Linked DNA regions of Homo sapiens: all the other regions are linked to region 3. The links come from fine-mapping of genetic effects on gene expression. A gene starts in region 3. Each other region holds a variant in brackets. All regions are shown on one strand. Distances are from middle to middle. Region 1 overlaps RFX1 (regulatory factor X1). Region 2 overlaps BRME1 (break repair meiotic recombinase recruitment factor 1). Region 3 holds the start of PODNL1 (podocan like 1).

Region 1 (5,000 bases), 38 kb before region 3:
TGTTTGTCCTCCAGAGCTCAGGCAGTCAGTTTCCCGCTAGGAAGGCAGAGCAGCGAGATCCCCGGCCCACGCCGCCGCCGGAGCCGCCGCCCCGGCCGCCCGCGTGCAGCGGCGAGGCCCCGCAGCTAGGCAGCCCCGAGCCGCCGCCGCCCCATTACGAGCCGGGCGCCGAGCAGTGGGTGGAGCTGGTGGGCGTGCTGCCCCCACACCTGCTCCTGCCGCAGCAGAAAGTGGTCTTCGAGCCACTGTCCCGGCTCCCGGCCCGAGCCAGCCCCGACCAGAGGGTCAGGATCCAGAGAATCCCCCAGGTGCTAGTGTTCGGCACGGCCGCCACGGCCCTCAAAGTAGGTGGCGGACGCACGGGCGGGGGGCAGCGGGCGGGCGGGGGCGGGGGCGCCCAGTCTGGGCCGCCCACCAGGCCCCGCAAGCCCTGTAGACCCCACCTCCGCCCGACGGGTCGGTCTAGGGACCCGCCTCTGACTCCCCACCCAAGCCCCGTCCAGGTCCCAGCTCCGCCCCTGCAGACAAGGGTGGGGGATGGAGGTGGGGGACTCAGGCCCCGCCCCTAAGGCCCTGTCAGTGATTCCAGGTTCTGTCCCACCAACCGGGGCCCCAGGCTCCGCCCCTCACATCCTGTGCCCGGTTTCCAGGCCCCACCCCTGAGGCCCTTTCTGTAGCTCCATGGCTCCAGCGATAGCCTTGCCCCTGTGCCTGGGGTCCAACCTTCACGCCCACTACAGGACCCTGTCTCGGGTCCCCTCCACTGTCCGTCAGGCCCCACCCTTGCTGGCCCCAGCCGAAGCCGAGAGTCCTGGCTTCTCCTGACACAGCTCTTCCTGATTCCCAGCCCTGGCCTCCTCCAGGGTGTTTTGTTGAGAGTCCAGAAGCCACCCTTGGGTCCGGGAGCTGGGCGTCAGGGATAGCCTGGGTGGGCACCAGCCCTTTAGAGGGAGAACCGTAGGAGCTGGCCCACCCCTGACCCTCCACGTGCCCTTCCTCTGCCCCAGGTGCAGCAGCTCCAGCAGGTGCCCGTCCCACACGTGTACTCCAGCCAGGTGCAGTATGTGGAGGGCGGCGATGCCAGCTACACGGCCAGTGCCATGTAAGTGAAGGGAGAGGGGTGGGTGAGGGAGTCAGGTCTGCACTGGAGCCTCCCCAGTCTCCCAGGACACCAGTCCCCAGTCCCAGCCCCCAGCAGGCCATCCGGCCTTCAAGGCCTCAGGTGACAGACACACAGGTGGGCACTCCCCAGGGGCAGCCACAGCCACGAAAAGTGGCGAAGCAGAGGGACCCTTGAAGGTTGGGAAAGGCACCCCGGCATAGCTTAGGGCTTGGGAGTCAAATGAGCCTGGTTTTTAACCAAAAAAAAAAAAAAAAGGCCAGGCACGGTGGCTCACGCCTGTAATCCCAGCACTTTGGGAGGCCTAAGCGGGCAGATCACTTGAGGTCAGGAGTTCAAGACTAGCCTGGCCAACATGGTGAAACCCTGTCTCTACTAAAAATACAAAAGTTAGCCAGGAGTGGTGGCAGGCACCTGTAATTCCAGCTACTCGGGAGGCTGAGGCAGAAGAATTGATTGAACCCAGGAGGCGGAGGTTGCAGTGAGCTGAGATCGTGCCACTGTACTCTAGCCTGGGCAATAGAGTGACACTCCATCTCAAAAAAAAAAAATCATTTGACTCTCAACCCTGTCCCAGAGAGGATGCTGTGACCTGTTTCTTTGTTTCTTTCCAGAGATACTCTAAGAACAGAAACTCTAGCCCTCTATCCATTTTTTTCTTTTTTTTTGTTTTTTTTTTTGAGATGGAGTCTTGCTCTATCGCCAGGCTGGAGTGCAGTGGTGTGATCTCGGCTCACTGCAACCTCTGCCTCCTGTGTTCAAGTGATTCTCGTGTCTCAGCCTCCCGGGTAGCTGGGATTACAGGCACACACCACCACACCCAGCTAATTTTTGTGTTGTTAGTAGAGATGGGGTATCACCATGTTGGTCAGGCTGGTCTTCAATTCCTGACCTCGTGATCCACCCGTCTCAGCCTCCCAAAGTGCTGGGATTACAGGCATGAGCCACCGCACTGGACTTTTTTTTTCTGTTTTTTTTGAGACAGGGTCTCACTCTGTCGCCCAGGCCAGAGAGCAGTGGCGCGATCAGGGCTCACTGCAGCTCACGGGCTCAAGCAATCCTCTTACCTCAGCCTCCCTAGTAGCTGGGACTACAGGTGTGCACCACCATGCTCAGCTAATTTTTGTATTTTTGTAGAGATGGGGTTTTGCCACGTTGCCCAGGCTCATCTCCTCGAACTCTTGGACTTAAATGATCCTCCCGTCTTGGCCTCCGAAAGTGCTGGGATTACAGGCATGAGCCACAGTGCCCAGCCTCTACCCGCTTTCTGTGGTCAGAAATAGACGCAGGACATTCCATCCATACCTTATTTCTTTCCTGGCTCTTCT[A/C]CCATGTGTCCTCGTGGGTCCTGGTCACCCTCTTAGCTGCTGTGTAATAACCCCTGTGCAGATGCAGCAGCCACGATGTCATCAGTCCCCACCCAGTGATGCATAGGGGGCTTCTTCCCCTCCCTGGGTACAGCACTACCATTCCTGTGTATGGGCCGTGTCAGGCAGGGGCCACGTCCTGGCCCCGCTTCAGTCCCGGCTCGGGCTCCTCGCCGGGGGTCCTCCATGCCACCTTCCCTCTCCCATCTCCACAGAAATTGCTGCAGTACTAGAGTTACTGTTGGTTTAGTTTCCAGAGGTTTCACTTGGTTTTCTTTGCATTTGCATGATTTCTTTTTTCATCCCTGCCACTTGTTCTTCTGGGGACAATGCTGGGATTGGTTAGCTCATGGATCGACTTAGTCCTAGGGTCATGATGCTCTGACCGACCCCAGTGGGCCTGGTCCAGGCATCTAAATCGTGAGGCTTGGTCCCCGGCGTCCGGCTACCTCACAGTTCCATTTGTTTCTTTCCAGTGCTGCTAATCTTTTCACTGTGTGGTTGAGCCAAGCTGGCAGGGGCCAGACAGGGCATTGCAAAGAGGAACACGGTGTCCAAGGGTTCCTGCTGCCATCCCTGGTAGCGTCTCTCCTGTCTCTCCTTTGCTTCTGTCTGAATTCCTCTCTCAGTGATCATAGTGTGTGTGATTGCACCTAGTTCATCGTTGCTATCGGGTTTTTCTGCTACGAGAAGTTGTTGGGGGCCACTCCTGCTGTCAGCTGCCCACCCCTTCTGTCTCTCCCTCTGAGTGAATTACTGCGAGTTCCCGACCCTTTGCCAGCCCTATCCCCACCCTGGCCAAAGCCACAGCCCCTGGGCCTCCATCCCTGGTCCTGTTCTGGGGGGCATCCAGAGCTGCACACATTCATTTATTCAGTCATTCAGCAACCATCTACCAAAGCAACCTTTTTGCAGCACACATTGCATGCTGGGTGTGCAGGAGTGAGCAGGCTGTGGCCCCCGCCTTGGAGAAGTAGGGGCTCTTGCTCAGGTCATGTGCTCTTGGTGTCACTTTGTGTGGTAGACATAGGGCAGGACAGAGAGATCGAGAGCTGGACCTGATGTGTGACAAAGACCATGCTTCCATATCTCCTTCCACTGTCCCCCTCAACTCCCTCTCTTTGTTCACCCACAACCACTCGGGCCTGTGCGGCTCCCTCCCCTGCCACCTTCAGAGTCTGAGCCAGGCCACCTCTTGACTGACCACACTGTCTTTCTGGATGTTTAATTTTTTTTTTTTTTTTTGAGATAGAGTTTCCCTCTTGTTGCACAGCTGGAGTGCAATGGTGCAATCTTGGCTCACTGCAACCTCCACCTTCAGGGTGGTTCTCCTGCGATTCTCCTGCCTCAGTCTCCCGAGTAGTTGGGATTACAGGCGCCCACCACCACACCCGGCTAACTTTTTGTATTTTCAGTAGAGAGAGGGTTTCATCATGTTGGCCAGGCTGGTCTTGAACTCCTGACCTCAGGTGATCCACCCGCCTTGGCCTCCCAGAGTGCTGGGGTTACAGGTGTGAGCCACCGTGCCTGCCCCTGCCCCCCTCCCTTTTTTTTTTTTTTTTTGAGGTGGAGTTTCACTCTGTCACCCAGGCTGGAGTGCAGTGGCATGATCTCAGCTCACTACAGCCTCCACCTCCCAGGTTCAAGTGATCCTCCTGCCCCAGCCTCCTGAGTAGCTGGGACTACAGGCGCCTGCCACCATGCCTGGCTAATTTTTGTATTTTTAGTAGAGACGGTTTCACTATGTTGGCCAGGCTGGTCTCGAACTCCTGACCTCAAGTGATCCACCCGCCTCGTCCTCCCAAAGTGCTGGGATTACAGGTGTGATTACACTGCACCTGGCCTAATGCTATGTTTTTAATCACTAGTACATTGAAAGAGTTCAAAGATCAAAACTATGTCCAACGATGTTTAGCGAGATGGTGAGAGGTGCCCCCTGCCTGTCCCCCTCGACGGAGCCCTCCATGCCCACAGATGACAGACACGCATGCCACATGCAACGCATTCTTCCCTATTGTTCGGTCACACGGTCCCCACTCTTCTCTGCCTCTTATCTGCCCGGTGTTAGGTTCTGGAGCTTGTTCTTTCGGGGGACGACAAGCCTTGCCTCCTTCTCTTTCACCCCTGCATAGGATTCCATCATCTTTTGTTTAACAGCCCCTTGAGGTTGAACCCCTGGTGGTTTTTATACTTGTATACTTGTGACGATTTGCAGCCTCAAGCCTGTGTCACCGGTGCCCATCCCGTCACGCGATATCTGAAGGAGAGAGGCTTCCCCAGCCTGGGATAGGTAGCTTGGCTCAGGGGAAACATATCTGCATTCCTGATGGTCTTCTCCAATCACAGCGTCGCCTTCTCTAGTCCCTTCCAATCACAGCATCGCCTTCTCTAGCCCCACCCCCTTCCTGCTTCACTCACTGCCTGATCACCTTCTGTTATGATCTCTCATTTACCTTTGCACGTGGCTTCTTGCCTGTCTCCCCAACTAGACGGTTCCGGGGGCCGGGGCTTTT
Region 2 (11,228 bases), 44 kb after region 3:
TTTTTTTGCTTTTTATTTGGTACAAATGGCCATTCAGTCAGCCAAGTGAGCAAGTGTTTGAGAATCTCAAGAAACCAAATAAACAAAGCAGCTATATTTTGTCTTTTCTGGCAGACCACAAGGTCGTGTTTCTTTTGAGACAGAGTCTTGCTCTGTCACCCAGGCTGGAGTGCAGTGGTGCAGTCTTGGCTTACTGCAACCTCCGCCGCCTGGGTTCAAGTGATTCTCCTGCCTCAGCCTCCTGATTAGCTGGGACTACAGGTGCCCACCACCACACCTGGCTAATTTTTTGTATTTGTAGTAGAGACAGGGTTTCACCATGTTGGCCAGGCTGGTCTTGAACTCCTGACCTCAAGCAATCTGCCCACCTCACCCTCTCAACGTGGTGAGATTACAGGCATGAGCCACTGCACCCGGACGGTTAGGAATGTGTTTCTATAAGCAATGTCCATCGGAGCTTTACTTGTGGTGGTACATCCTTTGAGGTGGGCACCTGATGGGGCAGGGCAGGGCGAAGGGGAGATCAAAGGGTGCATTGCACTCAGTTCCTGCCCTGGAGATCCTCCAGCTGTAGTCAGAGGACAAAGGAAAATGCTTCTCTCAGCGAGAGCTAAGCAAATACACAGCAGTGGGATAAAGTTCTAAACGGGCACTCCCGAACTGTAACTGACAGAATTACAAGCAACTTACCGTGCGCCATGGCTCACACCTGCATTCCCAGCACTTTGGGAGGCCAAGGCAGACAGATCACTTGAGATCAGGAGTTCAAAACCAGTGTGGCCAACGTGGTGAAAACCCGTCTCTACTGAAAATACAAAAAAATTAACCAGGCATGGTGGCTTGCACCTGTAGTCGCAGCCAATCAGGAGGCTGAGGCAGGAGAATTGCTTGAACCCAGGAGGCAGAGGTTACAGTGAGCTGAGATCATGCCACTGTACTCTAGCCTGGGCAACAGAGCGAGAGTCCATCTCAAAAAAAAAAAAAAAGAAGAAGAAGAAGAATTAGAAGCAATTACAGGAAGATTGCTGTGGTTTAGTGGAGGGCAAACAGCTGAATGGGGACTGATGCAGACCCTAGCAATTGGCGTCGAGGAAAGAGAGACTCATTCAGTAGGTTTACTTCACGATGTGTAAGTGTGTAATGTAGAGCTGAGGTTGGAAAGAGTCCATCTGGGGTTTGGATAGTGTTATTCTTTTTTTTTTTTTTTTTTTTTTGAGATGGAGTTTCACTCTTGTTGCCCAGGCTGGAGTGCAATGACGCGATATCGGCTCACTGCAACCTCCGCCTCCCGGGTTCAAGCGATTCTCCTGCCTCAGCCTCCTGAGTAGCTGAGATTACAGGCATGAGCCACCATGCCCGGCTAATTTTGTATTTTTAGTAGAGACAGGGTTTCTCCATGTTGGTCAGGCTGGTCTTAAACTCCCGACCTCAGGGGATCCGCCCGCCTCAGCCTCCCAAAGTGCTGGGATTACAGGCATGAACCACTGCGCCTGGTCCTGGATAGTGTTATTCTTTAGTGTTTTTTTTAGAGATAGGATCTAGCTCTGTTGCTGAGGCCAGAGTGCAGTGGCACAATCACGGCTTGCTGCAGCTTCAACCTCCAGGGCTCAAGCAATCCTCCTGCCTCAGCCTCCTGAGTAGCTGAGACTACAGGTGCATGCCACCACCCTCAGCTAATTTTTAAATGTTTTATAGAGGTGGGATCTCACTGTGTTACCCAAGTGAGATCCTGGACTCAAGTGATCCTACCCCCTCAGCCTCCTGAGTAGCTGGGACTGCAGGTGTGCACCACCACACCTGGCTGTTGGTTTGTCTTTTTGTTCTGCCTGCCTTGGCAGAAATCTACTACATAGTAGGCATTCAGTAAATGCTCAAGTATTCTTAAGTGTGCTGGTTCTGGAGTTGGACGGGGTGCCAGCCTTGGTTCCTGGGCCTCTGTGTGCCTTAACGTTTTCACCTCTCTGGGAACTTGGGGCCCTTGGGTGTCAATTCTCGCATCTTTCCTTTCCTTTTAATTTAATTTAATTATTTATTTTTTTGAGATGGAATCTCACTCCCTTGCCCAGGCTGGAGTGCAGTGGCGCCATCTTGGCTCATTGCAACCTCAGCCCCCCGGATTCAAGCGATTCTCCTGCCTCAGCCTCCCAAGTAGCTGGGATTACAGGTGCCCACCACCATGCCCAGCTAACTTTTGCATTTTTAGTAGAGATGGGGTTTTGCCATATTGCCCTTTTATTTATTTATTTTAATTTAAATGTTTAATTTAAATGTTTTTTTGAGACAGGCTCTAGTTCTGTTGCCCAGGCTGGAGTGCAGTGGCACAGTCTGGACTCATTGCAATCTCTTCCTCTGGGCTCAAGTCATCCTCCCCCTTCAGCCTCCCAAGTATGTGGGACTGCAGGCATGCACCACCATGTTTGGCTAATTTTCGTACTTTTTAGACAGGGTTTCGCCATGTTGCCCAGGCTGGTCTTGAACTGCTGAGCTTAAGCAATCCACCTGCCTCGGCCTCCCAAAGTCCTGGGATTACAGGCTGGCATCTTTCCTTGCTGGTGGCAAAGGCCAATATTTTAATCATGGACAAAGATAATATTGAATTGCTCAAGGTACTTCTGTAAGGCAGGCATAACAGCAGCACCCTGCCTTGAGCTTTTATCTTAACACACACAAGTTCTTAGGACAGCATCTGGTGTGGAACTCACTAGAGTCAACCCTTATCATTTGTTCACTGAATGCATGATTAGGTTGGGGCCAGGCTTGGGGAAGTCTTACAAGCCAGCCACTATTGAAAGTTTTGATGTGGCTGGGCACGGTGGCTCATGTCTGTAATCCCAGCACTTTGGGAGGCCGAGGCGGGCGGATCATGAGGTCAAGAGATCGAGACCATCCTGGCCAACATGGTGAAACCCTGTCTCTACTAAAAATACAAAAATTAGCTGGGTGTGGTGGTGCGTGCCTGTGGTCTCAGCTACTCAGGAGGCTGAGGCAGGAGAATCACTTGAACCCGGGAGGCAGAGGTTGCGGTGAGCAGAGATCGTGCCATTGCACTCCAGCCTGGTGACAGAGCGAGACTCTGTCTCAAAAAAAAAAAAAAAAAGTTTCGATGTAAGGGAGTTTTCTTAATTCAAAAGATAGATTCTGGCGAGGCAAAGTGGTTCATGCCTGTAATTCCAGCACTTTGGGAGGCCGAGACAAGAGGATCACTTGAGCGCCAGAGTTCACGACCAGCCTGGGCAACATATGAGACCCTGTCTCAACAAAACAAAAGCAAAAGAAAACTTAGCCAGGCATGGTGGCACACACCTTTTGTCCCAGCTACTTGAGTGGCCTGAGGTGGGAGGATGGCTTGAGCCTATGAGGTCAAGACTGCAGTGATCCACAGTTGCACCACCTCACTCTAGCCTGGGAGACAAAGCCAGACCCTGTCTTAAAAAAAGAAAAAATATATATATAGTATATATAATACATAAATACATATATGTAAATACGTATGTATAAATACATATGTATGTATAAATACATATGTATAAATATATATATTTACATATTTGGCTGAGGCTGAATCCTGAGGTGGCGTGGCCTGGCTTTAGATCACATGGAACAACCTGGCAATATAATGGGATATATAATATATATAGTATATATTTAATAAATATATATCATATATAAATATATAATATAATACAAGGATATAATGTTTATAATATATTAATATATCATAAATATATAATTTAAATAATATATTTTATAATTATAAATATGCAATATGTAAATACATTATAATTATATATTTTATATGTATGTATATATTAAATATGAATATGTATGTATTTTATATATGATATATAATATATATTAATTTTTTTTTGAGACAGAGTCTCGCTCTGTCAACCAGGCTGGAGTGCAGTAGCGCAATCTCAGCTCACTGCAACTTCCGCCTACCAGGTTCAAGCGATTCTCCTGCCTCAGCCTCCCAAGTAGCTGGGACTATAGGTGGGTGCCACCATGCCCGGCTAATTTTTGTATTTTCAGTAGAGACGGGGTTTTGCCATGTTGGCCAGGCTGGTCTTGAACTCCTGACCTTAGGTGATCCACCCGCCTCGGCCTCCCAAAGTGCTGGGATTATAGGCGTGAGCCACTGCGCTATATATACAAAGATGTCAATAAGCATCTTTAGCCTCTTAAATGCCAGAAGAAGACACATCGCAATTGCTTTCAGTGATGGGGAAGTTAGTGCAGAAATGCAAGGGGCCAGGACGTGGCCAAAGCATCACCTCTTCAGCACCCGGTGGCTGTGAGTCCCAGTTTTCCCAGGATGGCTATTTTGCAGATGTCTCAGCACATTAGAATGGTACATAATTTAGTCTTGTCTGCCCTTGGTGGTGTGCATTTATCCAGTCATGGATAATTTATTTATTGAGCACCAACAGTGTACAAGATGCTCTTACAGGCACTTGGGACCCCGCAGAGAGTGAAATGGATTCGGCCCCTTCTCGCGTGCAGCCTGGTTGTAGTGGGGGAGACCTGAGTTGTCAGCCATGAGCAGTGGCTGTATCCCCCACCCCTTCATCTTCCTCTGTCTCTAAAACAGGAGAGGGACTCTGTCCTCCAAAACCCCTAAAGAACCCAAGGCTAGGAGACTTCTATGGGGACCCCCAGAGTTCCATGTTGGGCTGTTTACATCACCCTGAGGAGCCAGAGGGCAAATTGGGACCTGTTCCCTCTACACAGCAGCACGGGGAGGAACCAGGAAAGGCCGTCTCCAGGTAGGTGGCTCTGAACATTCCGGCAGGTCTCCCCACTGACAGTCCACATAGCACAGCAGCTCAGCAGACAGCAATGCTTTGGGAAAGAGACCCACAACCTATCTAGTGCTGTGACCCACTCCCTCCCAGAGCTCAGGGCCCTCGGATCTCGCTTCTCCTAGCTTTCCTCGCTGGTAAGAAGGGTTGATGTTTTAGCCGGGCATGGTGGCTAATGCCTGTAATCCCAACACTTTGGGAGGCCGAGGGGGGAAGATCACTTGAGGTCACGAGTTTGAGACAAGACTGGCCAACACTGCAAAACCCCGTCTCTACTAAAAATACAAAAATTAGCTGGGTGTGGTGGCGCACCTGTAATCCCAGATACTCAGGAGGCTAAGGCAGGAGAATCGACTGAACCCAGGAGGCAGAGGTTGCAGTAAGCTGAGATCATGCCACTACGCTCCAGCCTGGGCAACAGCGAGACTCCATCTAAAAAAAGAAAAAAAAGTTTTAACTGTGGGCAAAGATAACATTGCATTTTTCAGGGTTACAGAACTCATATTCTGTCTGCTGGTCAAACCCATCCT[T/C]CTTCCACATTCCTCCTCTTCCTTAATCAAGAAGGGAACAAAGGAATTGTTGTTATGTGAGCTAACGACCAATAAAAAAAGAAAAGCAATCAGGGCTGAGTGCAGTGGCTCATGCCTATAATCCCAGCACACTGGGAGGCTGAGGCAAGAGGATCGCTTGAGCCCAGGAGTTCAAGAGGAGCCTGTGTAACATAACAAGGATGACCCCATATCTACAAGAAATAAAATAATTAGCCAAAACAAAACGATATACATATCCTTATTTATTTATTTATTTATTTGAGACAGGGTCTTTCTCTGTCACCCAGGCTGGAGTGCAGTGGCACAATCTCGGCTCACTGCAACCTCCACCTCCCGGGTTCAAGCGATTCTCCTGCCTCAGCCTCCTGAGTAGCTGGGATGAAAGGCGCCCGCCACCACACCCAACTAATTTTTGTATTTTTAGTAGAGACGGGGTTTCACCATGTTGGCCAGGCTGGTCTCGAACTCCTGACTTAAGGTGATCCGCCCGCCTCGGCCTCCCAAAGTGCTGGGATTACAGGCGTGAGCCACCACGCCTGGCCCTTATTTATTTAAATATAACCCTAAGTTTCACTAGTTTTTAAAGACACTATGTTTCTTGCATCCACAATTTCCTTTCCCTAGAATGTGCCGTGTCAGGGCTGGAGTGTCCGTCCAAATGAGAATATCCCTATTCCCAGTTCAGAAGGCAATTCCTGGGATTATAAATGTAACAAAGTCACCTGTTAAGGCAGTGTATTCTCCAGGTGGGACTCTGCACCCTCCTTGACAGTTAAATGTTCTCAGGTCACTGCTTCTCCATCCCCATCCCACTCTTTCAAAGCAGGTTTTCCAGGGCCTTCCATCTAGCAGACATTTTTTTTTTTTTGAGATAGGGTCTTGCTCTGTCACCCAGGCTGGAGTGCAGTGGCGTGATCATAGCTCATTGCAGCCTGAACTCCCCTGGCTCAGATGATCGTGACATTTCAGCCTCTCAAGTAGCTGGGGCCACAGGCACACATCACCACGTCCAGCTAATTTTTAAATTTTTTGTAGAAAAGGGGTCTCACTATGTTGCTCAGGCTGGTCTCAAACTCCTGGGCATCCACCCACCTCAGCTTCCCACAGTGCTGGGATTAAAGGGATGAGCCACCACGCCCAGCCTAGGAGACTCTTAGCACTGGTTTCCTGTTGGATTTTGTTTTGCGTTTGTCTCGATAGGTGAGTGACAACCTAGGAGGATTTCAGATCCCCCTCGTTTGTTTGTTTTTGACACAGAACCTTGTTCTCTCACCTAGGCTGGAATGCAGTAGCACAATCTTGGCTCACTGCAAACACCATCTCCTGAGTTCAAGCCATTCTGCCTCAGCCTCCCAAGTAGCTGGGATTACAGGCGTGCGCCACCACATCCAGCTAATTTTTGTATTTTTAGTAGAGATACGGTTTCACCATGTTCCCCAGGTTGGTCTCGAACTCCTGGCCTCGGTGATCTGCCCGCCTCAGCCGCCCAAAGTGCTGCAATTACAGGTGTGAGCCACCGCACCCGGGCAGATCTCCTTCAGTTTTATCTTTTCCTACATAGCTCCCCTGATGAGGAAACAGGATCTCCCTGCCGGCTCCTCCGTCAACCAGAAAAGGAGCCAGCTCCCCTTCCTCCTTCCCAGGTGAGCTCGTCCTGTGGCCTCGTGGATATAGAAGCACCACTGCCTCCCTTAAAGTTCCGGCTCTGTGTCTCCCTTCTTTGTCACCAATTGCTCACTCATGGTCTACAGGGGCTGGAGGGAATGTGCCCAGAGGGCAAGGGTGGAGTTCTCTCAAGGCTACAAGAAAGGAGCAGGTTTGGGGTTGCTTTTTTCCTAAGACCTCATTCCTCTCTTATCTTTATTGCTGCTTTGTTCTTGTATCCGGTTTACAGAACTCATTCGGGAGGTTTGTTCCCCAGTTTGCAAAATCCAGGAAGACAGTGACAAGAAAAGAAGAGATGAAGGATGAGGACCGTGGGAGTGGGGCCTTTAGCCTGGTAAGGCTCTAAAATCAGCCAGGCTGAGCCCAGCGCAGGTGCAGCCTCCTGGCCCAGCCTCGGCAGCCCCATTTAACCCTGGAGTTCTTTGGCAATGGTGAGGCCTGCACCTCTCCACCCACCGTTTTCAGTACATTGCGCTATGGATGTGTGTTGACTATGCAACAATTCTTTATTTTATTTTTTTTCTTTTTTTTGAGACAGAGTTTCACTCTTGTCACCCAGGCTGGAGTGCGATGGTGCCATCTTGGCACACTGCAACCTCTGCCCCACTGGGTTCAAGCAATTCTCCCGCCTCAGCCTCCCAAGTAGCTGGGATAACAGACGCCTGCCCACCGCGCCCAGCTAATTTTTGTATTTTTAGTAGAGACGGGGTTTTACCATGTTGGCCAGCCTGGTCTTGAACTCCTGACCTCAGGTGATCTGCCCGCCTCAGCCACCCAAAGTGCTGGGATTACAGGCATGAGCCACTGCGCACGGCCTTAGCACAATTTTTAAAAAAACACAAAATGGTACAGAGTGAATTTCCGGTGTTCTCTGTTTTAGCTTCACCGAGTGGTAACACCATGCATAACTATAGTCCATCACCAAAACTAGGCAATTGGCCAGGTGCAGTGGCTCATGCCTATGATCCCAACACTTTGGGAGACTTCCCTTGACCAGCCTGGGCAACATGGCAAGACTCTGTCTCTACAATAATTTTTTTTTTTTTTTGAGATGGAGTCTTGCTTATCGCCCAGGTTGGAGTGCAGTGGTGTGATCTCGGCTCACTGCAGCCTCCACCTCCTGGGTTCAAGTGATTTTCCTGCCTCAGCCTCCCCAGTAGCTGGGACTACAGGTGCACACCACCACACCTGGCTTATTTTTGTATTTTTATTAGAATAGGGGTTTCACCCTGTTGGCCAGGCTGGTCTCGAACTCCCAACTTCAAATGATCCGCCTGCCTCGGCCTCTCAAAGTGCTGGGATTACAGGCATGAGCCACTGCGTCCAGGCTACAATAATTGTTTTAAAACTTGGCCAGGTGCAGTGGCTCCCACCTGTAATCCCAGCACTTTGGGAGGCCGAGGCAGGAGGATCACTTGAGCCCAGGCATTCAAGACCAGCCTGGGCAACATGGCACAACGCCATCTCTACCAAAAAAACCACAAAATTTAGCCAGTTGTGGTGTGTACCTGTAGTCCCAGCTACTTAGGAGGCTGAGGTGGGAGGGTCGTCTGAATCTAGGAAGGTCAAAACTACAGTGAGCCGTGATCACACCACTGCACTCCAGCCTGGACGAAAGAGTGAGACCCTGTCTCAAAATTATGAAAAATAAATAATAAAAATAATAATAGCCGCTGGGCGCAGTGGCTCATGCCTTTAATCCCAGCACTTTGGGAGGCCGAGATGGGCAGATCACCTGAGGTCTGTAGTTTGAGACCAGCCTGGTCAACATGGAGAAACTCTGTCTCTACTAAGTATACAAAATTAGCCGGGCATGGTGGCGCGAGCCTGTAATCCCAGCTACTCGGGAGGCTGAGGCAGGAGAATTGCGTGAACCCGGGAGGTGGGGGTTGCAGTGAGCCAAGATCGCACCATTGCACTCCAGCCTGGGCAACAAGAGTGAAACTCTGTCTAATAATAATAATAATAATAATAATAATAATAAACAGGAAATTGACATTGGTGTGGTCTGAATGCCACCTTGATTTTCATATCCCTGATCTGATTGAGTACCTGGTGCTGGTGGAGAGAAGAGCTTGGTGGAAGGAGAGGTTTCTGTGCTTCCAGATCCCCCTCCAGTCGCCGGCCCTGGTACTGATGCCTATTTCCATGCATGATGGCCGGTGCCAATATCTGAGTCTTTGAACAGGGTGGTGACAACTATTAGATTGGTGCAAAAGTAAGTGCAGTTTTTGCCACTAATTTTTTTGTGTGTATGAGACAGAGTCTTACTCTGTCGTCCAGGCTGGAGTGCAGTCCTATCTCGGCTCACTGCAACCTCCGCCTCCCGGGTTCAAACAATTCTCCTGCCTCAGCCTCCTGAGTAGTTGGGACTACAGTCAACTGCCACCATGCCTGGCTAATTTTTGTATTTGTTGAGTAGAGATGGGGTTTCACCATTTTGGCCAGGCTGATCTTGAACTCCTGACCTCAAGTGATCCGCCCACCTCGGCCTCCCAAAGTGCTGGGATTACAGGCATGAGCCATCACGCCTGGCCAATTTTTGCCATTAAAAGTAATGACAAAACCCGCAATTACTTTTACACCAACCTAATAGAAAACTCTTCGGAGAACTTGGTTATCAAAGGCCCCGGGGCTGAGTCTTTTTCTGTCCACAGGAAACAATCGCAGAGTCCAGCGCCCAGAGTCCAGGATGCCAGCTGCTAGTGGAGACCCTGGGGGTCCCCCTCCAGGAGGCCACGGAGCTGGGGGACCCAACGCAGGCAGACAGTGCCCGCCCTGAGCAGAGCAGCCAGAGCCCTGTGCAGGCGGTGCCCGGCAGTGGGGATTCTCAGCCTGATGACCCTCCAGACAGGGGGACGGGGTTGTCCGCCTCACAGAGGGCCAGCCAAGACCACCTGTCAGAACAAGGGGCCGATGACAGCAAGCCTGAGACAGACAGGGTTCCAGGTGACGGTGGCCAAAAGGAACACCTACCAAGCATTGATTCTGAAGGGGAGAAGCCAGACAGAGGAGCCCCCCAGGAGGGAGGGGCCCAAAGGACAGCAGGGGCTGGCCTGCCTGGAGGGCCCCAGGAGGAGGGAGACGGTGTCCCCTGTACCCCAGCATCAGCTCCTACCTCAGGCCCTGCTCCAGGACTGGGCCCTGCCTCTTGGTGCCTGGAACCCGGGTCTGTGGCCCAGGGCTCCCCTGACCCCCAGCAGACCCCCAGCAGGATGGGTAGGGAAGGGGAAGGGACTCATAGCAGCCTGGGATGCTCCTCCCTCGGGATGGTTGTCATCGCAGACCTGAGCACAGACCCCACTGAGCTGGAAGAGAGGGCTCTGGAGGTGGCTGGGCCCGATGGGCAGGCCAGTGCCATATCACCTGCCTCTCCCAGGAGGAAGGCCGCTGATGGAGGCCACAGGAGGGCCTTGCCAGGCTGCACCTCGCTCACTGGGGAAACCACAGGAGAAAGTGGGGAGGCAGGGCAGGATGGCAAGCCCCCCGGCGATGTCCTAGTGGGCCCTACAGCCTCCCTGGCTCTGGCACCTGGGAGCGGAGAGTCCATGATGGGTGCTGGAGATTCCGGTCATGCATCCCCGGACACAGGTCCATGTGTCAATCAGAAGCAGGAGCCAGGTCCTGCTCAAGAGGAAGCCGAGTTAGGTGGCCAGAACCTCGAACGAGACCTCGAGGGGTTCCGTGTGTCCCCGCAAGCCTCTGTTGTGCTGGAACACAGAGAAATAGCAGACGACCCTCTCCAGGAGCCCGGGGCTCAGCAGGGCATTCCAGACACCACCTCAGAGCTGGCAGGGCAGCGAGACCACCTGCCTCATTCTGCAGACCAGGGCACCTGGGCAGACTCTTTAGCTGTGGAACTCGACTTCCTGCTGGACAGCCAGATACAGGATGCCCTGGACGCCTCTGACTTCGAAGCCCCACCTGAGCAGGTGAGAGCTGCCCTGAGTGACAGACATACCTGCCCAGGGCAGGCACCCAACCTCCACAAGCCCCCTCCTCACTCGGTGCAGTGGCAGAGGGGGAGCTGGGGCTCAGGGCTTACCATTTACACAGCCAACGACTATAGGAGTCCGAGTTGCAGCTCTACTGGGTGTGGAGTCGGTGGTTTTCCAGAAAGTGTAGACCTGCCTTTTGGTGGTTGTCGACATATCTAGGGATGGTGACACACAGCTGCTTTCTCAGCCGGGCCCCCCACATTGAACTGGAG
Region 3 (11,228 bases):
GAGGCTGCAGTAAGCAAAGATCCCGCCACTGCACTCCAGCCTGGGCAACAGAGAGACTTTGTCTCAAAATAAACAAATAGGGCCAGGTGTGGTGGCTCACGCCTGTAATCCCAGCACTTTGGGAGGCCAAGGCAGGCAGATCATGAGGTCAGGAGATCAAGACCATCCTGGCTAACACGGTGAAACCCTGTCTCTACTAAAAATACAAAAAAATTTAGCCAGGCATGGTGGCGGGTGCCTGTAGTCCCAGCTACCCGGGAGGCTGAGGCAGGAGAAGGTGTGAACCCGGGAGGCGGAGCTTGCAGTGAGCCGCCGAGATTGCGCCACTGCACTCCAGCCTGGGTGACAGAGCGAGACTCTGTCAAAAAAATTAATTAATTAATTAATTTAATAAATAAAACAAAACAAAAACAGATGTACAAGGATATCCAGTGGCAAGCCTCTCTTTGCCCCCAGCCACAAGCATTCAGGTCTCCCCCCAGAGCTAGCCAATATGTATGTTTTAATATATGGAAATGATCTACATTGTTAGCATCATTCTGCAATTTTTTTTCCCACAAGATTATCTCTACCCAGGTAAATCCATGTCGTGGTTTGAATGGTGTCCCTCAAATAGATAGGTAGATGTCCTGTCTCCCCGATGCCGTGAATGTGACCTGATTTGGAAAACAGGTCTTTGCGATGTAATTCAGTTAAGGATCTTGAGATGAGATTATCCCAGATTAACTGAGTGGACCCTGAATCCAAAGACCAGTGTCTTTATAAAAGACAGGAGAGGAGAGGCTGGGCGCGGTGGCTCACGCCTGTAATCCCAGCACTTTGGGAGGCTGAGGCAGGTGGATCATGAGGTCAGGAGATCGAAACCATCCTGGCTAACATGATGAAACACCGTCTCTACTAAAAACACAAAAAAATTAGCCGGGCGTGGTGGCATGCACCTTTAGTCCCAGCTAATTGGGAGGCTGAGGCAGGAGAATGGCCTGAACCCAGGAGGCAGAGCTTGCAGTGAATCAAGATCACACCACTGCACTCCAGCCTGAGCAACAGAGCGAGACTCCATCTCAAAAATAAATAAATAAAGACAGGAGAGGAGAAACAGGCTCAGTGAAGAAGGCCACGTGGAAACTGAGGCAGAGATTAGGGTGATGCAGCCACAAGCCAGGAAACACCAAGTTGCCTGGAACCACTTCCAGCCTCCAGAACTGTGAATGCATTCCTTTTCTTTCTTTCTTTTTTCTTCTTTTTTTTTTTGGAGTTTCACTCTCGTTGCCCAGGCTGGAGTGCAATGGCGCGATCTCAGCTCACCACAACTTCTGCCTCCCAGGTTCAAGTGATTCTTCTGCCTCAGCCTCCTGAGTAGCTGGGATTACAGGCATGTGCCACCATGCCTGGCTAATTTTGTATTTTTAGTAGAGACGGGGTTTATCCATGTTTGTCAGGCTGGTCTCAAACTCCCGACCTCAGGTGATCCGCCTGCCTCAGCCTCCCAAAGTGCTGGGATTACAGCATGAGACACCGTGCCTGGCCCTTTCTGTCTTTTTTTAGAGAGAGTCTTGCTCTGTCACCCAGGCTGGAGTGCAGTGGTGTGATCGCGGCTCACTGCAACCTGTGCCTCCTGAGCTCAAGCGATTCTCCTGCCTCAGCCTCCTGAGTAGCTGGGATTACAGGTGTGCACCACCATACACAGCTAATTTTTTTTGTTGTTTTTTTTTGTATTTTTTAGTAGACATGGGGTTTCACCATGTTGGCCAGGCTGGTCTCAAACTCCCAACCTCACATGATCTGCCCGTCTCTGCCTCCCAAAGTGCTGGGATTACAGGTGTGAGCCACAGGGGCGCACAGCCAATCCTATGTGCATTCTGTAAATATTTACTAAATACTGATTATACCAGGCTCCATGCTGGACACTGGGGCCACATTGATGGACCATACTCCATTGTTATCCCTGCAGAGGCCCCTGCTGGGTAATGCAGAACTGGGCAGGACCAGGCAGGACTGGACAGGACAGTGTGGCAGAAGGGGAGTTTGTTGCAGGAAGATAAGGCCAGTGGGTTATTTACAGGAACAATGGTTAGGTTCCTAGCCAATCAGCACATTCCATCCCTCTGGCCCCAGGGATTGGCTCTGGATGGACATGTGACCAAATTTAGGCCAATGAGATTTAAGTCTGAGGCTTTCTACTAAAGCCAGGGAAGAATGCTTATTGGTTCTGGGAATGTCTTAGCACCACATACAGAAGCCTGCAAGTAGAGTTCAGAGTTCAAGAGAGAATTCATCTAGAAGAGATCACTGGAGCCCCTGGATCCAGCTGTGCCTGAAGGATACAGGTTTTCTGTTCATGAGCCAGTAAATGCCCTTGTTTGTATTAGCTAGTTCAGTTTGGGTTCTCCTTCCTTTGCAATGGAAAGAGGCTTGCCCGGAACTCAAACATCTTGGTTCTTATTGCTGCTTCCCTGGGGGCTAGGACTGCTACAGTAGTCCTGTCTCCCTAGGGTTAGCCCCATTACACTGCTGAAGAGACTGAGGAACTTCCACCCAATGTCCAAGCTAATGGCCATCCATCCCATGGGGAGTACTTGAGATAGGAGCTGTTGTTCTCTTCTGGCCTAAACTAAGACCCGTCTCCTGTCTCACCCCATGAAGAGAGACCCTCAGGAGGTCACACAGCCCTAGGAAACATGAACAGATAACCACCTCTCTTGGCCCATGTTTCTTAACTTTTTTTTCTTTGAGATGGAGTCTTGCACTGTCGCCCAGGCTGGAGTGCAGTGATGCAATCTCGGCTCACTGCAACCTCCACCTCCCAGGTTCAAGAAATTCTCCTGCCTCAGCCTCCCAAGTAGCTGGGATTATAGGTGCCTGCCACCATGCCTGGCTAATTTTTTTGTATTTTTAGTAGAGACGGGGTTTCACCTTGTTGGCCAGGATGGTCTCGAACTCCTGACCTTAGGTGATCTGCCCACCTCAGCCTCCCAAAGTGCTGGAATTACAGGCGTGGGCCACTGCGCCCAGCCACTGTTTCTTGATCACTTCCTCCCTCCCCTGTATCACTGCCTGCCTTCTCTGGAATAAATGCACTCAATCCTTGTCTCAAGCTCTGCTTCTGGGAGACTCCAACTCCTGGCCTTGGCCACTCCCAAGCTGAGCAGACGCTATACTTTTTTTTTTTTTTTTTTTTTGAGACGGAGTCTCACTGTTACCCAGCCTGGAGTGCAGTGGTGTGATCTCGGCTCACTGCAGCCTCCAGCTCTCAGGTTCAAGCAATTCTCCTGCATTAGCCTCCTGAGTAGCTGGGATTACAGGCATGCACCACCGTGCCCAGGAAATTTTTGTATTTTTAGTAGAGACTGGGTTTCACCATGTTGGCCAGGTTGGTTTCAAACTCCTGACCTCAGGTGATCCACCTGCCTTGGCCTCCCAAAGTGCTGGGATTACAGGTGTGAGCCACCGTCCTTGGCCGACACTATACTTTTATTTTTATTTATTCATTCATTTTTGAGACAGGGTCTCACTCTGTCATCCAGGCTGGTGTACAGTAGCATGAACACGGCTCACTGCAGCTTCAACCTCCTGGGTTCATGTGATCCTCCCACTTCAGCCTCCCTGGTAGCTGGGACTACAGGCAACACCACCATGCCCCGCTAAGTTTTGTTTTGTTTGAGACAGAGTCTCGCACCATAGCCCAGACTGGAGTGCAGTAGCACAATCTCTGCTCACTGCAACCTCTGCCTCCCAAGTTCAAGCCATTTTCCTGCCTCAGCCTCCCAAGTAGCTGGGATTACAGGCACATGCCACCACACCCAGCTAATTTTTGTATTTTTTAGTAGAGACAGGGTTTCGCCATGTTGGCCAGGCTGGTCTCGAACTCCTGACCTCAGCTGATCTGCCCACCTCGGCCTCCCAAAGTGCTGGGATTACAGGTGTGAGCTACCGCGCCTGGCCCCCGCTAAGTTTTTTTTTTTTTTTTTTTTTGAGACGGAGTCTTGCTCTGTCACCCAGGCTGGAGTACAGTGGCGTGATCTCGGCTCACTGCAACCTCCGCCTCCCTGGTTCTAGTGATTCTCCTGCCTCAGGCTCCTGAGTAGCTGGGACTACAGGCGCGCACCACCACACCCAGCTAATTTTTTGTATTTTTAGTAGAGATGGGGTTTCACAGTGTTAGCCAGGATGGTCTCGATCTCTTGACCTTGTGATCCACCTGCCTCGGCCTCCCAAAGTGCTGGGATTACAGGTGTGAGCCACCGCGCCTGGCCCCCCACAAAGTTTTTAAAAAATTTTTTTAGAGACGGGGGTCTCACCATTATTGACCAGGCTGGTCTCAAACTCCTGGGCTTAGAGCCATCCTCCTGCCTCAGCCTCCAAAAGTGTTGGGATTACAGGCATGAGCCACCACACCCAGCCACCATTCTTAAAATGTTCTACCCACTGCCTCGTTCTGCTTCAAGACAGCTCTTTGAGGGGGGGGGTTTGTCATCCCCCCACTTTTTTTTTCTTTATTTAATAACAGGGTTTTATTCTGTTGCCCAGAGTGGCGTGCAGTGGCACATAGCTCATTGTAACCTCAAACTTGAGCCCAGAGGCTCAAGTGTTCCTCCTGCCTTGGCCTCCTGAGTACCTGGGACTGTGGGTGTGCACCACCATACCAGGTTAGTTATTATTATTATTATTATTATTGAAACAGAGTTTTGCTCTGTTGCCCAGGCTGGAGTGCAGTGATGTGATCTCCACTTCCCAGGTTCAAGCGATTCTCGTGCCTCAGCCTCTGGAGTAGCTGGGATTACAGGCACGTGCCATCATGCCCAGCTAATTTTTGTATTTTTAGTAGACAGGATTTCACCATGTTGGGCTCGATGCTCTGGAACTCCTGACCTCAGGTGATCCGCCTGCCTAAGCCTCCCAAAGTGCTGGGATTACAGGTGTGAGCCATGGAGCCCAGCCCAGGCTAATTTTTTTTTAAATTTATTTTTAGAGACAGGGTCTCACTATATTGCCCAGTCTGGTCTCAAATTCCTGGCCTCAAGAGATCCTTCTAGCCAGATGTGGTGGCTCATGCCTGTAATCCGAGCACTTTGGGAGGCCAAGGTGGGCAAATCACCTGAGGTCAGGAGTTCGAGACCAGCCTGGCCAACTTGGCGAAACCCTGTCTGTACTAAAAATACAAAAATTAGCTGGGCATGGTGGGAGGCGCCTGTAATCCCAGCTACTTGGGAGGCTGAGGCGGGAGAATCACTTGAACCCCGGAGGTGGAGGTTGCAGTGAGCCGAGATCACGCCACTGCCCTCCAGCCTAGGCGACAGAGTGACAGAGTGAGACTCTGTCTCAAAAAACAAAAGAGAGATCCTCCTGTCTCAGCTTCCCAAAGCACTGGGATTACAGGTATAAACCCCAGCACCCAGCCTGTCAATCCCATTTTATGTGTGGGAAAGCTGAGGTCTGGGCAGGAGAAGGACCTGTCTGAAGCCGCCCTGTTGGTAAGTTGTGGGTCTGGGAGAATTGACCTCATGTGGAGACCAGCTTGTCACCCCCATCCACGGGTGCCAAAGCCCTGGGATATGCCAGGCACTGTTCTGAATGCACACTTCGTATAATCCTTACAACACTGTGGGGGAGTGTGGGGTGGTGAGCCAACCATTACCCCAGAAAGGGAAACCAAGGCCCTGAGAGGTGGCACAGCCCAGGTTCAAACCCAGGCAGGCTGGCACCAAGCTCACACTCTTAACCACCAGGCTGATGCCTGGATATATGTAATTTCCTTCCAGGCGGCTGTGGCCATTTGCGGGGGGAGGAGGGGGCGGGTGTCTGGAGCAAGACCAGCCAGCAGAGGGGAGGTGGGTGCCGGGCAGCAGACCTGGTCAGGAGCTCCCAGGCTGGCATCTGGGCTGCCAGGCTAAGCTCAGGCCTCCCTAATCCCTCGCTGCTGCCCGCCCCTGCTTCTCGGAACTCTCCTGTGCCCCGAAGCTCCCCCCATCCCTCCATCCCCACCCCTACTCCTGCGGTCGTCCCAAATACCAGACAGGACGAATCTCAGCTTTTCCCCAAACATTCCTTGTTCTTGTGGCCCGGCCCAGGCTGGCTGAGGTTACGAAAGCAGAGATGGGGTGGTTGTTGGGGGGGACCAAGGGGACGGGCTGGCCTGTCCTCACCACCCCATCCGGCCGCCTGCCCGTCCTCCCCAGGGCGGGGAAGGGGGTGGGCCAGCTCCCCCAAAGCCCCGGGAGAACAGGCTGTTGTGGGGGGTGGCATGGGTCTGGAGATGGGGGGCGGTGGTGGCCACAGCAGAGGCTCCAGGAGGTGACCGCCTGGTTTCCATTAGGAAGTCCTGGTCAGCAGCTTGGGCGAGATGGCAGAGTCAGGGCTGGCCATGGTAAGGTGGGGCACGGGAGGGTCTGAGGGTGGGGCCTGCCTGCCCCCCCACCCCTGCTCTGCCAACTGGCCACTGCCTCCCCACCAAGACCCTCCCCGAGGAGGGGATGCTCCAGTCACCATGGCGACCCTGCGCCCAGCCTGGAGACACGCTGACCCTCCCTCCCCCGCAGTGGCCGAGCCTGCTGCTGCTCCTGCTGTTGCCGGGGCCCCCGCCCGTCGCCGGCTTGGAAGACGCTGCCTTCCCCCACCTGGGGGAGAGCTTGCAGCCCCTGCCCCGGGCCTGTCCCCTGCGCTGCTCCTGCCCCCGAGTCGACACTGTGGACTGTGATGGCTTGGACCTTCGAGTGTTCCCGGACAACATCACCAGAGCCGCTCAGCACCTCTCCCTGCAGGTGGGGCCCACGGAGGGGAGTGGGGGCATGCAGGGCTGAGACCCAGTGGTGAGGGGAGCTGGAGGGGTGCCCCAGAGCTGAGGAGCGTGGTGGGGTATAGGAACACACTTGCAGGAGGGCGGTGCAGAGCAGGCTGTGATGGAGCTTTGCCTTGGCAGATTGGCTCTGCATGCCCAAGATGAGAGGGGTGAGCGTGGACATGCTGGAAGTTGTCGGGGACTGAGGATTAGTGGTGTTAGGGTCAACATCTTGGCGGTTATAGTGTTGTTTGGAGTTAGTGTGATGGGGAGTTTGGGGTTATGGGGATGTTGTGGCGTGTGGGGTTGATGGTGGGGGTGATGGCACATTTGGGGTCGATTGTGGGGGTGATGGCGCATTTGGGGTCAATTGTGGGGGTGATGTCGCATTGTGGTCGATTGTGGGGGTGATGGCGCATTTGGGGTCGATTGCGGGGGTGATGGCGCATTTGGGGTCGATTGCGGGGGTGTTGGGGCATGTGGGGTTGATTGCGGGGGTGATGGCACATTTGGGGTCGATTGCGGGGGTGTTGGGGCATGTGGGGTTGATTGCGGGGGTGATGGCACATTTGGGGTCGATTGCGGGGGTGTTGGGGCATGTGGGGTTGATTGCGGGGGTGATGGCACATTTGGGGTCGATTGCGGGGGTGTTGTGGCATGTGGGGTTGATTGCGGGGGTGATGGCGCATTTGGGGTCGATTGTGGGGGTGTTGTGGCATGTGGGGTTGATTGCGGGGGTGATGGCGCATTTGGGGTCGATTGTGGGGGTGTTGTGGCATGTGGGGTTGATTGCGGGGGTGATGGCGCATTTGGGGTCGATTGTGGGGGTGTTGTGGCATGTGGGGTTGATTGCGGGGGTGATGGCGCATTTGGGGTCGATTGTGGGGGTGTTGGGGCATTTGGGGTCGATTGTGGGGGTGATGGTGCATTTGGGGGTGATTGTGGGGGTGATGGCACATTTGGGGTTGATTGTGGGGGTGTTGAGGAATTTGGGGTCGATTGTGGGGGTGATGGTGCATTTGGGGTCGGTTGTGGGGGTGATGGCACATTTGGGTTGATTGTGGGGGTGTTGGGGGAATTGGGGTCGATTGTGGGGGTGATGGCACATTTGGGGTCGATTGTGGGGGTTTGGGGTTTGACATCTTGGCAGTTATAAGACTGGGTCAGAGTGATGGGGTGTTTGGGATTAACTGTGGGGGTGATGATGGTATGGGGCTGGTTTGGGCTGATGGGAAGTTGAGAATCAGTGCTTGGGGTCACTTGGTCACGGGGTCACGGGTGTGAACACCCCAACTCTCACCCTGCAGAACAACCAGCTCCAGGAACTCCCCTACAATGAGCTGTCCCGCCTCAGTGGCCTGCGAACCCTCAACCTCCACAACAACCTCATCTCCTCCGAAGGTGAGGGGGCAGAGGGAGGCGGCCTCTCTGGGGCTGTAGGACTGACCGAGGTCTCAGCTGCCATCCCCCTCCCCCGCCCCATCTGCGGGCAGCTCTGTGGCAGTTCCCAGAACTGCCCTTTGCTGAGCAGGATGGAAACTCAGGAGCTGGGGTGGGGGTTGGGGGCTGTGGCTTTTGAGTAGGGATGGGGAGGAGGGGATCTGAGGGCCTGGGGAGCCTCTGCCAGTTCCCCGGCCGAGAGTCCTGGGGCAGCTGGGAGCCCAGACTCCCCCTCCACCCAAGACAGGCCTGGGGTCCCTTCACTGCCCCCCTACTCTCCCAGGCCTGCCTGACGAGGCCTTCGAGTCCCTCACCCAGCTGCAGCACCTCTGCGTGGCTCACAACAAGGTGAGCCCCCAGCCCCACCCGCAGGCCGAGCCCAGTGAGGGTGCAGCTTCAGTCACTCAGCCCAGGGTGTGGAGGGGACAGCTCTGCTGGGGAAGTGGTGGGGCCAAGGCGCACCAGGACCAGTCCGGCTGTGGGCTGTGTCCCCACAGCTCTCAGTGGCCCCTCAGTTTCTGCCCCGGTCCCTCCGTGTCGCGGATCTGGCTGCCAACCAAGTGATGGAGATCTTCCCCCTCACCTTTGGGGAGAAGCCGGCACTCAGGTAGACCCTGGCCCAGCCCAGGCCCCCAGGCCTCAGATACATCTGTGTCATGCCCCGGTTCTAGGAGCAATGAGGGAGTTAAGACCTTGCCCTCGGCCGGGTGCAGTGGCTCACTCCTGTAATCCTAGCACTTTGGGAGGCCAAGGTGGGAGGATCATCTGGGGTCAGGAGTTCGAGACCAGCCTGGCCAACATGATGAAACCCTGTCTCTACTTAAAATACAAAAATTAGCTGGGGGTGGTGGTGTGCGCCTGTAATCCCCGCCACTCAGGAGGCTGAGGCAGGAGACTGGCTTGAACCCAGGAGGTGGAGTTTGCAGTGAGACGAAATCGTGCCACCGCACTCAAGCCTGGGCGACAGAGTGAGACTCTGTCTCAAAATTAAAAACAAAAACAGAAACAAAATGCCTTGCCCTGGAGGGCTTAACCAGGGACAGATCCCTAGCCTTGGGGAGTGGGAAGAGGGCATAGTTCTACCCTGGGAGGAGAGTGAGCGGGGAGACAGGGCCCTGTATGCTGTGTCAGAACTCCAGACTGAGGTGGAGACAGTATGTGCAGGGACACACACACACACACACTTACACAGACTCACATACACACCTGCACACACAACCACATGAACACATGCTCATGCACACACAATCACATGCACACACAAGCACACACACAGACTCACATACACACCTGCACACACTTCCAACCACATGCACACAGGCACACACTCATGCATGCACACGCAATCACATGCACACACAAGCACACACATGCACATATGTACACAATGCTCACACTTTTGCACATGATCACATGCACACATGGACATACATGCATACACACAGTTGCACACTCGGCTGCACACACACAATCACATGCACACTTATGCACAGGCATGCACACATGCACACCCACACTTACAATCACATGCACACACTCACCCATGCACACTTATGCACAGGCACATAGCACACACTTGCATATACATACACACATGCACGCCCACACACTCTTACAATCACATACACACGTGCACACACACTCCACATATGCACTCATTACACTTACACATGCACACTGCTCACACATGCACACACGTCTATTCATACAACACACATGCACACTCACCTGCACACCTACGCACAGTCACATGCACACATACACAATTACATTCCCACACAGACTCCACACATGCGCGCGCACACACACACACACACACACACACACACTGAAGGCGACCCTGAGCAGGGTGTGGTGCGGGAGTGGGGTGGTAGGAGGCGAGGGGCAGGCTGGTGGCCGGAGCCTGGCTCTCCTCAGGTCCGTGTACCTCCACAACAACCAGCTGAGCAACGCTGGCCTGCCCCCCGACGCCTTCCGCGGCTCCGAGGCCATCGCCACCCTCAGCCTCTCCAACAACCAGCTCAGCTACCTGCCGCCCAGCCTGCCGCCCTCACTCGAGCGGCTCCACCTGCAGGTAGCCCTGCTGTAGGTCCCACCCCGGGCCAGACTCTCTTCACCTCTTTCCAGGGGGACCCCTCCAGTTCCTAGCTTTCCATTCTTCTCAATTGCCCCTCAGAATGCCAGTGGTCAGAGTTATCCTTCTTTGAATCACTTTATTGGAAATCGCTTTGAGCTCAAGGCAAGCTCCTCGTCACTCCCTTACTCAAGAGCCGTCTGTGGCTTCCCGCTGCCCTCATCCCAGACTCAAGTCTCATTCTCTTCTTCCTTCTCCAGAACAATCTCATCTCCAAGGTGCCCCGAGGAGCCCTGAGCCGCCAGACTCAACTCCGTGAGCTCTACCTCCAGCACAACCAGCTGACAGACAGTGGCCTGGATGCCACCACCTTCAGGTACAGGCTGGTTGGGGGGCAGCAGGGGCTGAGAATTTACAGTCGGGGGTCCCAACCTTCAGTCCCCCTTCCCTGACTGGCTCCTAAGCCACGGCCTCATTTACTGAGTGCCTGCTGCTCACTGGGCTCGGCAGAGCACTGGGTAGGTGTCCCTGTTCCCCACAGCCCTGCACTGACATCGTAAGTCTCACATGCCTTTCCATCTCGGCTCTACCCTGGTCACCCCCATAGCTAACTCTCAGGCTGGAATCTGCCCTGGGCACCCCAAGTTTACCTCCCACCCAGCTCTCTCCACGCATCACTCCCAAGTCAAAATCTCCAGCTTAAATCTGTCTCAGGACCACTCCCCAGCCTCCCCGCCAAAATCTGTCAGGCACCCCACTCCAAGTGCCCCACCTAACACCGACCCTCTCTCCTTCCAGCAAGCTGCATAGCCTTGAATACCTGGATCTCTCCCACAACCAGCTGACCACAGTGCCCGCCGGCCTGCCCCGGACCCTGGCTATCCTGCACCTGGGCCGCAACCGCATCCGGCAGGTGGAGGCGGCTCGGCTGCACGGGGC

The links. PIP is the estimated chance that this variant, and not a neighbour inherited with it, causes the effect.
Region 1: its variant is fine-mapped to the expression of PODNL1 in left ventricle (GTEx, PIP above 0.99).
Region 2: its variant is fine-mapped to the expression of PODNL1 in testis (GTEx, PIP above 0.99).

What each region holds. Positions count from the first base shown.
Region 1 is chr19:13,974,094-13,979,093 of GRCh38, reverse strand. RFX1 (regulatory factor X1) reads left to right here. Exons shown (of 21, transcript NM_002918.5): 8 at 1,008-1,102. Among named protein-coding and RNA genes, the nearest start is that of DCAF15, 24 kb to the right of the region's middle. The variant A/C (reference allele first, on the strand shown) is at 2,449.
Region 2 is chr19:13,888,910-13,900,137 of GRCh38, reverse strand. BRME1 (break repair meiotic recombinase recruitment factor 1) reads left to right here. Exons shown (of 9, transcript NM_001345843.2): 3 at 4,592-4,766; 4 at 6,915-6,996; 5 at 7,248-7,352; 6 at 9,676-10,950. Among named protein-coding and RNA genes, the nearest start is that of BRME1, 12 kb to the left of the region's middle. RefSeq lists an enhancer at 10,059-10,560. The variant T/C (reference allele first, on the strand shown) is at 5,333.
Region 3 is chr19:13,933,315-13,944,542 of GRCh38, reverse strand. It overlaps PODNL1 (podocan like 1), which reads left to right and starts at 6,126. Exons shown (of 10, transcript NM_001370095.3): 1 at 6,126-6,364; 2 at 6,537-6,758; 3 at 8,083-8,176; 4 at 8,499-8,563; 5 at 8,713-8,822; 6 at 10,133-10,289; 7 at 10,550-10,665; 8 at 11,088-11,228. The coding sequence starts at 6,362. RefSeq lists an enhancer at 7,606-8,363.